Linked DNA regions of Homo sapiens: region 2 is linked to region 1. Evidence: fine-mapped expression QTL. Tissue or cell type: prefrontal cortex. Region 1 holds a variant in brackets; the other region holds the start of a gene. All regions are shown on one strand. Distances are between the middles of the regions.

Region 1 (8,187 bases):
GAACACACGGACACAGGAAGGGGAACATCACACACCAGGGCCTGTTGTGGAATGGGGGGAGGGGGGAGGGATAGCATTAGGAGACATACCTAATGTTAAATGACGAGTTAATGGGTGCAGCACACCAACATGGCACATGTATACATATGTAACGAACCTGCACATTGTGCACAAGTACCCTAAAACTTAAAGTATACTGAAAAAAAAAAAAATCCCAGCATCACGCAGTACCTCAAAGCAAATTGCAAACAATGTCATTCGCTGAGCTCCGGGTATCCTGTCTCTGAAACGATGCCACTGTGTAAGAAAAACAGCCCATGTTTGGATCCCTATTAAACCAATTCTGGGCTCTGTAACTGATACAGGTTTTAAACTCCCATGGGCTTCAAAAATCAGGGGACTGAATTAAAATTTTTTCACAAAGTCCCTATAAGTCCCTTATAGATCCAACTCTAGGATCTATAATCCCCATACACAAAAGAGAACATGTTATAGGAGAAGAAAACAGTTACCAGCAGGTCATTCCAAAACATGCTGGAAGAAACTAAATAAAGCAAAAAATCTTGATTTTTGATTTTGTTTCTATGACTTCTCATTTTTTTCCATTTTGTGACTAAACTGTGGTTTAAGTAGTTAAGCCAAATGAATAGAAGCGAAACCAATATACTACACACCAGCAGCATTCTTATTTTTGTGGAGAAAGAAAACAAATATGTGCTATTTGATCGTGTAAGAAAGATAAATCTACCAAGCTTCCACAGACAAAGCCCATTAAATCAATAGGGGTCTGCCCAGTGCCCAGGGAAACCCATCAAGAGCAGCCAAATTATTTCGTTTTTTTTTTTAAAAAAGCTATCAACTTAACATTACAAATCATTTGCTGTTCTCAAGAGAATTGCCTAGTATTGCAAAACTTGATAATTACTGATTCATGACTGATTTAGGAAAAACATCGGCTTAAGTAATCAGGCCAGAGTACTGCTGCTGACCGCAAGGCTGGCAGGAAACCTAGCTTTTCTTTCATGAATGTTTAACATTTTACAAAATTTAGCTTTTAGCATATCACCACTGGTTTGATTTTTCAAAAACCTGGGAATACAGAACATACCAGTTATGTATTATCAAGCACCTATCTTTTCTCTAACTTTTCTTCAAGTATCACTAACCAGAAACGCAGTGAATTATGAGAAAGTGATTCAGAAATCAGACTTGACATGGACTGTTTGCTATAAAATGGTAGATCTTAGACTCTTTGAAAGAACTCTACAGACACTATAAACTGACAGTACATTCTGTATAAAATAGCAGGAAGAATTTAATTAATGTTCTGAGCCAATCCTACACACCACAGGCTACACATGCCTACATTAGGGCAATACACAAATCTCTCATGTAAGCTTTGCTAAAGAGTCACTTCATGTGGCCAGCAGATAACAAGCATATCAGAAAATGTTCATCTGTACATGCCCTTGGGAAGATATTTTCCATAAGGATACGTGAATATCGTATCTCCATAAAGAAAACTATTCTCTCTCTGTTGGAATTGTTTTTCTGCTTAAAATTAAGCAATTAAGAATGTTTTCTTATTCTGCAGAGGAATCACAGAGAAATGCTATCCCACAGATTCAGAAACTGCCTCTAAACCATAATAAATTTTCTTTTCAGATCTTTTCTTTTTTCTTTAAGATTCTGCTTTCAAGTAAACATGCTTTTGTTAGTAAAAGCCAGATTCTTGTCAACTTAGTTTCTAACAGAAACTCTCTTTCTCTCTCTCTCTCTCTCTATATATAATAATTTTATGTATTTTGTAATATATAGAGAGATATATATTATAAAAATATACAAATTGTAGGTCTCGTCACTAAGAACACCTACATCATCAATGTTCTTGCAGGAAGAAAGGCAAGTATTTAAAGAACAGAAAATTAAAGTAAGCATTTAAGGGCGGTGGTAAAACAAGTACTTACAAACTGCTGATGTGCAATTTGGTATAGAACCCCATATAAGCAAATTGACAATATATATTAAGATGTAAAATGGTTATACCCCAGATCCAAAAATTCCACTTTGAGGGAGATATTATTTTAAATACAATTACAATAGGAAAAATTTTGTGCACAAAGATATTTACTGCAGCATTATTTTTAATAGAAAAACAGAAACAGCATATATGTTGAACAGCAGGAAAATGATTAAGGAAAAAATTATATAATCTCTCAATAGATTACTATGTAGCCATGAGAAATACCTATGAACATTGGTAATAACATAAAAATGCTTATAATATTAAAAAACAGAAAATAAGCCAATATTATAGATACACATACATATATAAAAATGCTTGCTTATAAAAATGAAAGAAAACCCTTCATGTAAAAAAAAAAGATGAAAGGAAATATTGGATGCTTTTTTCTCTTCTTTCTTTTTCTGTATTTTCTAAATTTTCTTCAATAAGCTCCTTAAGGAAACATTTTGAATAAAACAAGAGGAATTCTAAACAGACATGGATTAGAACTGATGCTTAATATTCCTAACCAAAATTATATTAGGTCTGAGAGAGGGCAAATGTGAAGAAATTTTTGTGGCATTACTGTTTACTGAATTAATTCATAATTAATTCATTCAATGAATAGTTATATAAATTGTCTGAGGGAGAGAGGGAGGGAATCATAGAAGTCATTGCTAACCCAAGAAAATCATCTAGTCCACATTACGCAGCAGCAGGAAGAATGAACCCTAGGGGGACTGAAATGTAATTTAAGAATTGAAATAATATAGCAGCAGAGAAGTCATATGAAGAGAAACTTCGGACAAGGCAGAGAAGATCGGAAATATTAGTACTGCAGAGATGCACTGAGGTCAAGGAAAACAAGGAGAAACAAAAAGGCACAGGAGTTAACAAGTTAAAGACTACTTGGGAAACTAAAGCTAGAAATCAAGTCCTGGAGGGTGAGTGGTGAGGAATTGGAGGCAGTGGGTGCAGATTAGACCCAGGGTCATTTGCTTTGTCCTTTGCAGAATAGGGGAGACAGGCATGAGTTTGGAAGCAAGAGGAGGGAAGAGACAGAAGATTGGAGATGTGGAAACAGCCCAGAACCATCCTGTCCCCTGCATGCCCCCGACCATCAGAGGCTGCCCATGTACCATATATGGCTGTTCCTGACACGGAAGTGCACCTCAGCTGGCTCTAAACATCTTTGAGACTTTATCTCTAAACCATGCCTCACCACAAGTCGTCTCTCCTAATCAAGCCATTCTTGTGCTACTCCCCTCATGCACTCACATGGCCTTCTCTACCTCTGGGAATGTTCCTTCTCTGCCCCTTTCTCACGTTCTCATTTCCTGCTACCCTTCACTGTCAGGTTCCAGGGCTCATCCATGGTCCTTGTATTAATCTTCTAGGGCTGCCATAACAAAATACCACAGCCCGGGTGGCTTAAAACAACAGACATATTGACATATTCTCTCACAATTCTGGAGGCTAAAAGTCTAAAATCAAGGGTTGGCAGAACCATGCTGTCTCGGAAGGCCATAAGGAGGGTCCTTCCTTGTCTTCTCTTACCTTTTTGGAGGTCCTGGAAATCCTTTGTGTTCCTTAGTTTATACATGCGTTACTCAAATCTCTGCTTCTGTCTTCACATGGCTTTCTCCA[C/T]TGTGTGTCTGTGTCTCTGTTTTCTCTTCTCACAAGGACACTAGGCATTGGATTAGGGCCCACCCTAATCCAATATGACCTGATTTTAACTTAACTAATTACAACTGCAGAGACCCAATTCCAAATAAGGTGACAGGATATGAGGGCGATATGGCTGCAACATCTGTCACTCCATTGATCACCAGGGTTGATTCGGCTGATCTGGCTGGCTAGGCAGGTGTCCTCTTCCTCCCTCACTGCTCCATGTGCATCCCTCCAGAAGCTGCGCACTCGGGGGAAGAAGGTGACCATCTGGATAGAGGAGGACCAGTCTTTGGTCAAGGATATACAAGTAGCTGCACTCCCCTGCTAGAACCTCCAAACAATCCCAAATAAGGTAAGAATCTTAGGTTCTGGGTAGACATGAAATCCCGGGGCGGTGAAGGGAGGGGACTCTTCAACTCAGTACAGTCCTCATCCAGTCCCAGAGAGTGGCCATTCCACTGTGGTCTCATCTGCTCCCAGTCCATCTATTCTCTGCTTGTTACTGTGAAATCTGTATCCCTGGCCTTAAGCTCAATGCCACTCTTTAGAGCTATGCTTCCCACTGCCCGCTGGACAAATCCACAGGCCCTTTAAACAAAACAGCCACTTCCAAAAGAGAGTCCAAATCCCATCATGGCTCCTGTGTTTTCTATTTTATTTCATAACAAATCTATCTGGCCTCCCAAGTTAAGAAGCATTAGCATTATCTTCAACTTTCTCTTCTTCCTAATCCCCTCCCACCACATCTGATCAAAAAAATAGTCCCTGTGGAATCTATCTCACAAACCTCACTCAAATTTGACCTCTTCTTTCTACTTCCATTGCTAAGGCCTTAGTTTGCTCTCAGCCCTTCCTTAGACTATATAGGCAACACAAAGGCTCAATTCAGTAAAATATAGCACACCTATGTGCTAGGTGCTGGGCATACCAAGAGGAATTCAACACAATCTTGCCCTTGTGTAGCCCTCAACCTCTTATCTGGTCTCCCTGCCACTAGGCTTAAATGCATTTTCTTGTCAGAAAACAAATCTTATAATGGCATGTTGTGGCTTCCAATTCTCTTTTCACTCTCTTTTTCCTAGAAGGTGAAATGCAAATCCTCCCGTAGTCATGGAAGATGTTTCACAGTCTGCTTCCCCCTGTGCCGCACCCTTCACATCCAGCACTTCATCTCTGCCATGGTGGGCTTCTCATTCGTTCCAGATTTATTCCTGGGAGCAGTGTTTTCTTTTATCCAAAGAGGCTTTTCTCCCTTCTGTGCCCTGGGAAGCTCCTACCTACCTTTAAAGTGCCGCCCAAATGACCTGTCCTTTCTTACCTCTTATCAGAATCCAACAGGGTTCCTCCACACTCTGTGCCCCTACAAGACTTTGTTCAAATCCCTGTATAATCACATTTGCCACATTGTTGAAATTTATCTTTTTCACTGTCTGTCTCCATCGCTAGACCAGGAGCTCACAGAGGACCAGTACCAGGCAGCACTCATGTATCTCAGTCTGAATGAATGGAATTATGAATGCACCCTGCTCTCTTTGTCTTAATCCTACCCAAGGTTCCAGGCCTGGCTCAGTCCCGAGCCCCTTCCCTGGACTTTCTCAGCCACTCACTCCAGGCTATGAGTGTCTCCCTTCTCTGAAATGACCACAGTACTGACTCTCTGTATCACCAGCTTGGTGCTTATAACATGGTACTTTGTGCAATTGAATGTCCCAGTCTTCCCTTTTGATGCACTTCAAAGTTTCTTTTCCAAACTTAGTCCAATAATTTGCACCATAGTAGATGCTCTGTAAATATCTGCTAATTGGTTATTCAGTTTGGGGATGAGGGGGTGGAGTCCTAAAGAAAATGAGAAAGAGTGAGTTCCAGGACAGGTGGTAGTTTTGGCTATAGAATAGGTAGAGTATATTTTCTCCCATGAAACTAAAAGGAGGGGAAGAAAAACATAGGAAAATTATAGAGGAGAATACAAAGGTCCTAATTAGGACAGCCTTGGTCTTATTTTTAAAATAAGCATGGAAAAATAATATGCTGATTTAAGTATGCTACATGAATCTTAAATACAGCCAAATAAAAACAAATCAACATTTACCATCTACAGCTAGAGAAAGAGAAGGCAAGAGTGCAGGTAATTTATCTAAAATGGAACACATCATGTACACACTTTATGTAAACTTGCCTCTACATGATTATTGGAAAGGATGTGAGTAAAAGAACTGTAAAGTGTAGGCAGTTCTGCCGTCTATTCCACTGAAGGAGCATTCACTCCCCACGTGCCCCTTGTAGTCTAAGCAGCTCCAGATGCTGATAAAGCCAAGCCCACTTCTTTAGTGATCTGTGTCTACAGCAAAGGAAACACTAACTGTACAGCACTTGCTGAGAGAGAGTGTGTTAGTATCTAATGTAGCACATATTTGTGATGGGATATACTAAAATTTATGAGCAGTTTAATAGGCTTTCAAGGATATTGACTTTGCATAATTTTCATATTGTATATTGACTTTAGTACCAAACCCCTAAGTAAGATGTGACTCCACTGTGTAAGTCAACTGGCCTATACTGATAGGTAACCTGCATTAAGAACTCTTATAGTATTTGCTATTTATACTACTCATTTTGGCATTTAGTTGTATGTTTAATTGCTGGAAGTTCAGGTGTAAATATGATTATGTTATCTAGACTGTAAGTTCATGTTATCTAGACTGTAAGTTGGTGACTGTAACCACATCATAAGCTTTTATACCCCACAGTGTGTATGGCACAATGCCAAGGACCAAACAAAAGTTCTTAATTACTGAAAGGCCATTTTATCAATGTCACTTTCTCTCTAATCAAACTCTGAATCTAAAAAAATAACTAAACATGTCTTATATTCTCTGTTATGCTTTCTAGGGTCCATTTTTAAGGAAGAGGCCCTTGTTTAACTCAAAGTTACTTCTTAAATTTTAAATAATTGGCTGTTAACATATTTGATTAGGAAGGCATGAAGAAGTTCAGTACAAAGGGTAATTTAAAAAGTTATTGTCATCAGCATTTTTCTAGAAAGATAATAAAAATCACTTGGGAAACAAGCCTGCCTTTATTGGTGGCCTGGGAAGAAACATCAAATCAAGCTAAGACCCACCCACTCCTTTAGAGAAAATATAAAACAAGAGAGTAAAATCTCCATGGAATAATCAACAAAATATAGATATTTGAGAAGATGAATCAGGATTTCTTCAGGTTTAAATAAATTATCATGTATCATCTCTAATTTAAAAACAACATTTTTAAAGTAAAATGAGCCTTTCATTGCTGATTCCTAGCATACTATTTCCTTAAATCCTTTCATTTCATTAATATAGCTCAGTTCACAGTGCAGCAGGGACCAGATGAAGATTGAGCAATTACTGAATGTCATGGGATTATAAAGATAAGCTATTTGGATAATTTAAGCTAAAAAAATAACTCTTCTTTATCTCCAGGGTGGGTTTGGGAACTTTGGTTATTCACTGAATTTGGCCAGCCTACATTTTATATTACCAGAGAAAACATTCTAAATGTGCTTCCAACATTAGAAAATTATTTCTGTTTTCAACATGTTCTGTGATAAAGAGATGTAAGATTAAATACCATCCCAGTTAAAAGTAAGTTTGCTGCCATTTTTACTATATTGGTCAGCTAGCTTTTTTTAACTCTTAAGTCAAAGTTTGGGGCATTAAAACAAATAAATTCACTGTTTTTTCAAGCATAAATGATATGCAATAAGCCTCAGAGAACAGAGGTTACTCACTCTGGTTGTGTTTTACTTTCTTGCAAACACATACTCATGCTCAATTGAACTGCCTCCAAGTGATTTTTAAGTATTAAAGGTGAACACAGCCCTCATTTTTCAGGGATATTTTGGGCAGCTGTTGTAAAAAAAAACAAACCTGATGTTAAATTAAAAAGTTAAAAGGCACTAATCAAGAAATTACCCAAAGTTTAAGCTCACATAAAAACAAACAAAAATGAATGATGTGTAACATTGAACAGGAAAAACATTTAGAACCCTTGACAACGGGTTCAAATTTCCTGACCTGCTGGACAAACTCCCCTTTCCACATCTTTCCTAGATTCCATCAGATCCTGTTTTTCTCTCTATAATAAACTGTCATTTATCTAGAATGCAATCAACCAGAAAGTTAAAATAAACAGGGTGGTGTTTTCCTACGCTCCCTTTTCCGTTAATTTGCAGGTGTTTATTGAATGCCTACTATGTTCCCAACACTGTGTTGGACACTGGGCATATGAAAGATGTTGCAACTGTTGCTTAGAATTCTAGAATTCTCAGAATTCTTAGAATTCTCTTTAATGAGGAAAGAATAACAAGCAAACAAGCTTTCAGAAACGTAGTCCATAAAGCAACTTCTAATATGTCTGTAAAAGCAATCCTGTTTCCATCCAACCTCTAACTGCCTTGTTCACCTATAATTACCAGGCTAAGCAATAACAGTCAAAGTTCTCTGACTGTAAGTGGAAAATACTATAAAATC
Region 2 (8,187 bases), 29 kb after region 1:
GTTGGAAAATGGTGGTGGCTTAGACCAGAGTGGTTGCAAAAGAGGTGATGAGAAGTGGTTCCATTCTGGATATATCATGAAGGTGAAGCCAACAGAATTTCCTGAAGGATAGAATGCAGGATATCTCAGAAAAAGAGAAATCAAGGATGACTCCATGGTCCTGAATCTGAGCAAATAGAAAGATGAAACTGCTTTAACTGAGATGGTGAAGGTGGGTGGAGTAGGTTGGGGGATGATAACAGCAGTTGTGTTCAGTTTGAAACATCCATTAGATGTCCAAATGAAGATAGCAAGTTGGCAGCTGGATATATAGGAACAGTTCCAGGCTGGAGATATAAATTTGAGAGTTTTCACCCCATTTTTCTGGAAAAGTGGCTGGGAACAGGTAGAAAGAGTTTAAGAGAAACAGGAAAAACCATGTGCACAGATCTTCTTACTGTACAAAAAGTAAAGATCCATTTAAAAAAAATCTGGAGGTCATTAATGACTTGGGGGAAAACACTAGAATTTTGATAGTAAAAATATTTGATACAATTACCAAAACTCTGTATACTCAAGTAAGGTTTAGGGAGGGTTGTACACCTCCCCTCTGATCTTGTCCAATACTGTGTGGCTTGCTACCAAACTGGCAATGTCTAGGTAACCCACACTGGATACCCCAGAGATAAAGAGAGCAGCTTCCACCTGATAACCTCCCTCTCCTGCAGTCGCTACCACCCTCCCACCTTGAGTCAGCAGGAAAGGAAAGGAGCTTTTCCTCTCCTCCTGAGCTCTGCCTCCTGCTCAAGGACAGAGTCAAAGTTTTAACCCCTTCAGTTTGTAAGTTTTCTCATTCATGAAATTGTATTTGGCCATTTGCTTCTTAGAAGACAGCTGCCTTGGAAGCAAGCTATTAGTATGACTTTAGAGTTGGAGCCTTCAGAGGTAACTGCAATTTGTGTGGTATGATTTGATAAAAACAGAAAAAAAGATTTTTCTCTCCAGATTCCTGAAATTCCACTATGAAAGGTGAAAGTGAAATGCCCAACTTTGAATGAGCAGTATTGGAGATTTCACTAAGTCAATAAGTGAAGAAAAGAGAAGCTATAGATGAAAAAAGAAACCCATAAAAAGGGAGACTTTTTATTATATATTGACAAATTATAGTTGTATATATTAATAGGGTACAAGGTGTTATGATTTTTTAATACAATGTGTAATAATTAAACCAAGCTAATTAATATATCCATCACCTCAAATATTTGACATTTTTTGTGATGAGAACATTTGAAATTTACTCTCTTAGTGATAATGAAATATACAGTACTCAATTATCAGCTTTATTCACGACACCGTGCAATTGAACTTTAAAAAAATCAAACTTTTCCTCTCTTTTTTTTTTAGATGGAGTCTCACTCTGTCACTCAGAGGGATGATCTCAGCTCACTGCAACCTCTGCCTTCCGGGGTTCAAGCGATCATCCTGCCTCAGCCTCCCGAGTAGCTGGGATTACAGGCACGTGTCTAATTTTTGTATTTTTAGTAGAGATGGGGTTTCTCCATGTTGGCCAGGCTGGTCTTGAACTCCTGACCTCAGGTGATCTGCCCACCTTGGCTGCCCAAAGTGCTGGGATTACAGGCATGAGCCACTGCACCCAACCCTTATTCATCCTATCTAATTGAGGCTTACACTCTTTGACTGTTATCTCTCCATTCCCTGCAACCCTAGCCTCTGGTAACCACCATTCTACTCTCTGCTTCTATGAGTTCAATTGTTTTAAGTTACTTTCAGATACTTGAGAACATGTGGTATTTGTGTTTCTACATTTGGCTTATTTCACTGTGCATAATGTTTTCCACTTCCATCCATGGTGTCACAAATGACAGAATTTCTTTTTTAAGGCTAAATAGTATTCCACACATACACACAGACACATAAAATGGAATACTATTCTCTTTTAAATTTTGTATGCCTAATAATTCATGGTTAAAGGACAAGATAATAACTATTTTTGAGTATCCCGCTGTGGAGACACGATCTCCTTTGATCCTTGCAGCAATGTGTAAGGTAAGTGGCATCATCTTCCTTCTATTAATGGTAGAACTGAAGATCAAAGAGAGTGTCTAACTTGCTTAGGGCTACATAGCCAAGTGGTGAAGCTAAACTCAGTCTAGGCTTACTTGATAGTACACTAACATTAAATGTCTAGGAGTAAATATCTAAAACAAACTGTAAGTCTTCTCTATTTACCATACAAATTATTCAAGTGAACTGCCATTTTTGCCTGGCTTGAAAGATACTTTTCAGAAGAATGGGCTCATATACACATGCACGCGCGCACACACACACACACAATGGAATACTATTTAGCCTTAAAAACGCATATATATCTAAAATATATGTGTGTACATATTTTATATATATATGTGTTTATATATATAATATATATTATATTTGTATACACACACACATATATGCCACATTTTCTTTATCCATTTATCCCTTGATGGACACTTAGGTTGATTCCATATCTTGGCAATTGTGAATAGTGCTGCAATAAACATGAAAGTACAGACGTCTCTTCAACACACTGATTTCAAATCTTCCCAGTAAATACCCAGAAATGAGATTGCTGGATCATATGATAATTCTACTTTCAGTTTTTTGAGAAACCTCCATACAATTTTCCATCATGTTTGTACTAATTTACATTCCACCAACAGCATACAAGCATTCCCTTTTCTCCATTCTTGCCAACACTTGTTATCATAAAGGGAGGTTTGAGAGACCATAAAACAAACCCCACCTCACAATTTTGTTAGTGCAAGTTCTATTTGGCCTATTCCCAACACTAAGCACACAGTAGGTGGCAAATATTTGTTGAATGGATGAATTCTCATTTTTCTCCATTTGTGGAAGCAGACACCTCCTCAAAAAAAAAAAAAAATCCGAAAGAAAAGGTAAAGGAAACAGTTCTATGAATGGGGGTTAATTTACTCTCCTAGCATTCACTTATTGGGAAAAAAAGTAACAGCAGTTTCTAGAACCCTCTGGTCTCTGAGGGAGATGCTGTGTTCCCCTCCTCAGAGAAGAAGAAAACGCACTAGAGAGTGGGAGCATCCCCAAGGCTGAAGCGCATCCAGGACATCACATGTCAACGTGTCCTCTCTGGCGTGGGGTCCCCGCGAGTCTGGGAAACGAGGAGCTGGCAAGGGAGGGCAAGCGGGGGCGGCAAAGAGGGCCCCTGGAGCAGGGGGCGCGGACCTCGCTGCGCTGCGCGCTCTACCGCCGGGCTCGCAACGCTGGGCTCAGCGCTCGCGCCTCCCTCAGCTCTCTCCTCCGCCCCCCTTCGCCCTCCCCCTTTCCCTCCCTTTCTCCTCCTCCTCCTGCCGCCGCGGCCGCTGCCGGACTTCGCCAGATCAGACCCACGGGGCTGCCCTCCCCTGCGCACTCCCCTCGCTGCCCGGGCCCGGAGCGCAGCGCGGCCGCACAGGTAGGAGCCCCCAACGGGGGGTCGCCCCGAGCGAGCCCAGTACTCACTGGGCCGCGCGCGGGAGAGTGAGGTGGGGTGAGCTGAGGGGTGTTGAGTACCCGAGAACTGCCCTGGACTGTGCAGGGTGTCTCGGGCAGAGAGGGAGGTGGAGGTGTGCAGCCTCGGAATGCGATCTGTCAGCAAGTGCGAGTACTCGGGTGACATCTGTTGGGATGGGCATGTGTGTGCGCGCCGACAACCAGCCGGCAGGGCTTTGCCCATAAACGTGGTTTTGAAAGTTTAGGGGACCAGTGTGCGAGATTTAAGCCGCACCTGGATTCCATAGGAGCTGGTTAGAAGCTGGGACGCTGAGCAGCTCCAGGGGACCGCCGCGTTAGCTTGCTGTTAAGAAAGGGGACCTCATCTCCCTGCCGGGCCAGGCCGCCCGCCCGAAACTGGTACCTTGGGCTGCGGTGCGATCCCTGGTTCCGGTCCTAGGCAGCCTGAAACCGAAGGTAGCGTGTCGGGGACCCAGACTGATAAGACAAAAGAGAATCAGTCGCTTTGGGCTGCCCCTCCACACAACCTGGGACTTTTAAACAAAGCTGTGCGCAGAGAAAGGCGTGGAAATGCCACTTTGAGAGTTTGTGCTGGGGGATGTGAGAAGCTCTGAGACATGTGAGAAGGTCTAGTATTCTACTAGAACTGGAAGATTGCTCTCCGAGTTTTGTTTTGTTATTTTGTTTAAAAAATAAAAAGCTTGAGGCCAAGGCAATTCATATTGGCTCACAGGTATTTTTGCTGTGCTGTGCAAGGAACTCTGCTAGCTCAAGGTGAGTATACTGGGAAAGCCTTAACGTTCTAGAGAACAGAGTTTTGCAGCCCCACCTCCATCCCCCGGGGTGTGGGACTGGGGGGCAGGAAATGCACCGTCCCCTTTGAAATGGATTACTGTTTTTTCCTTTCGACCCCCTCTTTCTGCAGCCTGCTTTGTAGGTGCAGTATAAAATGCACGCTGAATGTCTTTTGTATGTAAACAGCGTAGCAGGATGGAGTAACGTGAAATGCAATTCTACAGCAGTTTTTACGTCTTTGCTGCCTCGTTCGTTGGCTACCGAGAAGGTTCAGGAGGGGGAGGGGAGATGAGAAAGCAGATTGGAAGTTGAGTATGGTGGAGCCTCAGCCTCTCCCACCCTCCTTTCCTCGCTTGTGCTCACTGCTAAAGTTTTGTTACTTTCCCCGCAGCAGATACTAAACATTAGTTTGTCCTGTATTTTCTTTGAGATTCACAATGTTGAAAGCCCTTTTCCTAACTATGCTGACTCTGGCGCTGGTCAAGTCACAGGACACCGAAGAAACCATCACGTACACGGTAAGGGGTGATGGAATTTGAAATAAGTACGGTTCAGCGGGATTCTGTGACAAAAAAAGACTTTACACACCCCTGCCAGTGTATTTGGGCTATACTCTGCTGAGGGTGATAAATTAAACAACACTTCATTCATGCTTCATATCTAAGATTCGTTGTAAATTGCCCCCTTGATCCTTTCAAAAGTTCATTGGGCTCACCACCTAAGATAGGAACCAACATGTAATCATTTGTGCAGGGCTAAAAATGGGATCCGTTCAAAAACTAAAACCAAAGAAAGTTACATGTTTCCAAAACATTCAACAAATTAATGGGTGTAAGGAACTGGAAAACCTGGACTCCTACCACATGCAGATAAAACCAATACGTGCAGAATAAGACTCAAGTCAAGTAAGAACGTTAAACACCATAAAGACACATGGCCTTCTTTGTGTACATGACATGCATTCTCAAGTAAGTGGCCTTTATTGAATTTATAAAGGCTATATATTCATTCTTTTTGTATAACTTGATAATTCTAATAAATAAAGGCAGACAACAGTTTATGTGTTACCAGGATGCATATTGGCTAAAGTGGTTTTAAAACGTAATGTGTGCAACTCCGTTTTGCATTTTCTAATTAGCGTCTCTGATATTTCCAAGTAATATTTGATTAGTTAGTTGCATAGGTGTAACCAATGTTTAATAAAATATTAAAAAGATCACCTGACCCCTCCCACTGCTACAAATAGTTGTGGTGAGAACAGAGAAGGACAGTACTGACTTCACTTCTGGTGAGTTTGTTTGCACCTCTGTTCTGTGTTTTCTTGTCTTTAATCAGTGTTAGGCAAATGACATTTGTCCTGGATTGGAATATGAAAAGCACATTTTTCTACTGCTCCCAGTTTAAAATTAAGTAATCCTACTCGAAAGAATGTGAAAAATTTTTGAAAAGAAAACTCTTAAAAATGAACTAATGTCAATTACTGATAATAAACATTATCTCACTTTTTGGTACCACATTATCCCTAGAATGTTAGTATTCATCTGGCAAATGTTCCTTTCTGTTGTTCAGATCCACTATAAATAAAATAGCTTAATACAAATATTTTGTTAACTTCATGTTAAATGCAGTTGCTTCCTCTGCTGAAGATAAATTAAGCAAGAAAAATGAAGGCATGTGCTGTTTATCTTAAAATGAAAATGTTTTGTTATTCAGACTAAACTTACTGCCTTCTCAGGGAGCTAAAATTAAATTCACTACCCACTTTTATAATCATCTCATAAAAGATTTTACTTCTTTTCCAGTTGCTTATCTTCTATGCCCTTCCCTTTGCTAATCACCTAAATCTTCCTCATTTTTACCAGAGAAGGTTCCCTGTGGCTTAAACATGATAGTTTTAAGACCACTAACTAGGGTTCATTATTATTGTAACAAATTTTCCAGATATGTTACCCTTTTGTGCTAAGATTGGGCCTATTCTCCTTTAAATTTTGTATGCCTAATAATTCATGGTTAAAGGACAAGATAATAACTATTTCTGAGTATCCCGCTGTGGAGACACGATCTCCTTTGATCCTTGCGGCAATGTGTAAGGTAAGTGGCATCATCTTCCTTCCACTAATGGTAGAACTGAAGATCAGAGAGAGTGTCTAACTTGCTTAGGGCTACATAGCCAAGTGGTGAAGCTAAACTCAGTCTAGGCTTACTTAATAGTACACTGACATTAAATGTCTAGAAGTAAATACCTAAAACAAATTGCAAGTCTTCTCTATTTACCATACAAATTATTCAAGTGAACTGCCATTTTTGCCTGGCTTGAAAGATACTTTTCAGAAGAATGGGCTCGTATCCACATAATAGCCTCATAGTCCTCTTCCATATTAAAGATGGTGTCCATTCAGCTGTTTACTCAACAACTATCTGCATAAGCAATTCTCATCACTATTAAAAGAATTTGTTTGTTTACTAAGAAAATTCAGTCTCCTCTTGGAGAATTTAGCCTGGGAAGACAGTGTTGAAAACTACAAAGTTCCTAAGCAAGGACAAATGATACTATTATACAGATTATACAAATTGCCAAGGAAATAGAAAAGCAAGGAGGTGATTAATGTTGGTGCCAGCATATTAGAGGAGACAGAACTCTGTGCTGGTTCTTGAAGGAAGTGATGACCTTGGTTGGATTGATCTAGAAAGGCTGAAGAGGCACCTGAGTCAGAGAGTGGCATAATCAAAAGCTAGAGCTGAAAGCACCTGAGACCAATCCAGGTGGTGATAAGGTCAGATCAGCTGGAACTGGGTAGTGGGAAGAACCCAGAGATGGTGATGATGAGAGATCTGCAGGTCACTGTGAGGTCTCAGAGAGAGGAGCAACATAACCAAGAGCACAAGAAAGATCATGGGGTCTGTATGCAGCATGTAGAGATGCGGGGCCTTGCCTACTCATGGGCCAGCAAAAGCCTTTCTTAGTAGACATGGTAGAAATGGACACAAAGTCAGCAGAGATGGAAGGAAAATAAGTGGAGCATTCAGCACTGATGTTAAAGTTGGAATCCTGGGTTTCGAAAAAGGTAGTGGTACCTTTAACACTGTTTGGGAAACAAGAAAAAAATTAGTCTGAGAGACAAAGTGAATTTAGTTCTCGCTCCAGTAAGTTTCAGACATCAGTAAAATATCTAAATGGATCTCTGGGCTTCCATTCAGCTATTTCCTTGTCAAGCATCCATTGTGTACATAAGCAGCTCTCAGTTATATTAAAAGAATTTAAGTTTATTTGTTTGTTTACTCCACTTTTGCTCAATCCTTCCTTGGGCTTCTTCCTTACAGTGACTTTCTCAAATGAGCGTCTGATCAGATTGTTTCCTGAGCTTAAAAATTCTTCAGAGGCCTCTTATCGCCTGTAGCAACATTTCTCAAGAAGTAGTTCCTAGACAACCTGTATGGGAATCGCCTGGGATACTTGCTAAGAATTTAGATTCCAGGCCCCCTACCCAGACCTACAGAATCAAATCCTTTGGGTGGGCCCAGGAATCTTCATTTTAACAAGAACCCTGAATGATCCTTAGACACAATAAAGCTTGAGATTCACTGACCTTCAGGGTAGAATTCAGGCTTCCATTCCTAAAGAAAGGCTTTCTTGTTTTGGCCCTGCCTACCTCTGTAACCTCATCCTCCACCTACCCAGAACTCCTTGCAGCTCCTTCCCTTTTCAAAAATTTTATGCCTTTGTCACAATAGCCTCTCTTCCTAGAATTCCCACATTCACCTGGAAAAATCCTGCTCATCCTGTAAAGCCTGATTTACTGTCACCTCCTCTGTCAAGTCTTCCCTTCTGCCCTGCCATGCTCACCCATGCCCCCGGGCAGAGTCCATTACTCCTTCCTGCAT

What was found. PIP is the estimated chance that this variant, and not a neighbour inherited with it, causes the effect.
Region 2: EFEMP1 starts here. The variant in region 1 is fine-mapped to the expression of EFEMP1 in prefrontal cortex (ROSMAP, PIP 0.91).

Annotation. Positions count from the first base shown.
Region 1 is chr2:55,947,615-55,955,801 of GRCh38, reverse strand. LOC105374690 (a long non-coding RNA gene) reads right to left here. Exons shown (of 9, transcript XR_940109.3): 2 at 7,446-7,563; 3 at 3,563-3,943. It also overlaps the pseudogene RN7SKP208. Among named protein-coding and RNA genes, the nearest start is that of EFEMP1, 28 kb to the right of the region's middle. RefSeq lists an enhancer at 2,971-4,170. The variant C/T (reference allele first, on the strand shown) is at 3,653.
Region 2 is chr2:55,918,996-55,927,182 of GRCh38, reverse strand. EFEMP1 (EGF containing fibulin extracellular matrix protein 1) reads left to right here and starts at 3,401. Exons shown (of 12, transcript NM_001039348.3): 1 at 3,401-3,472; 2 at 4,244-4,284; 3 at 4,736-4,823. The coding sequence starts at 4,743. RefSeq lists an enhancer at 3,342-3,841.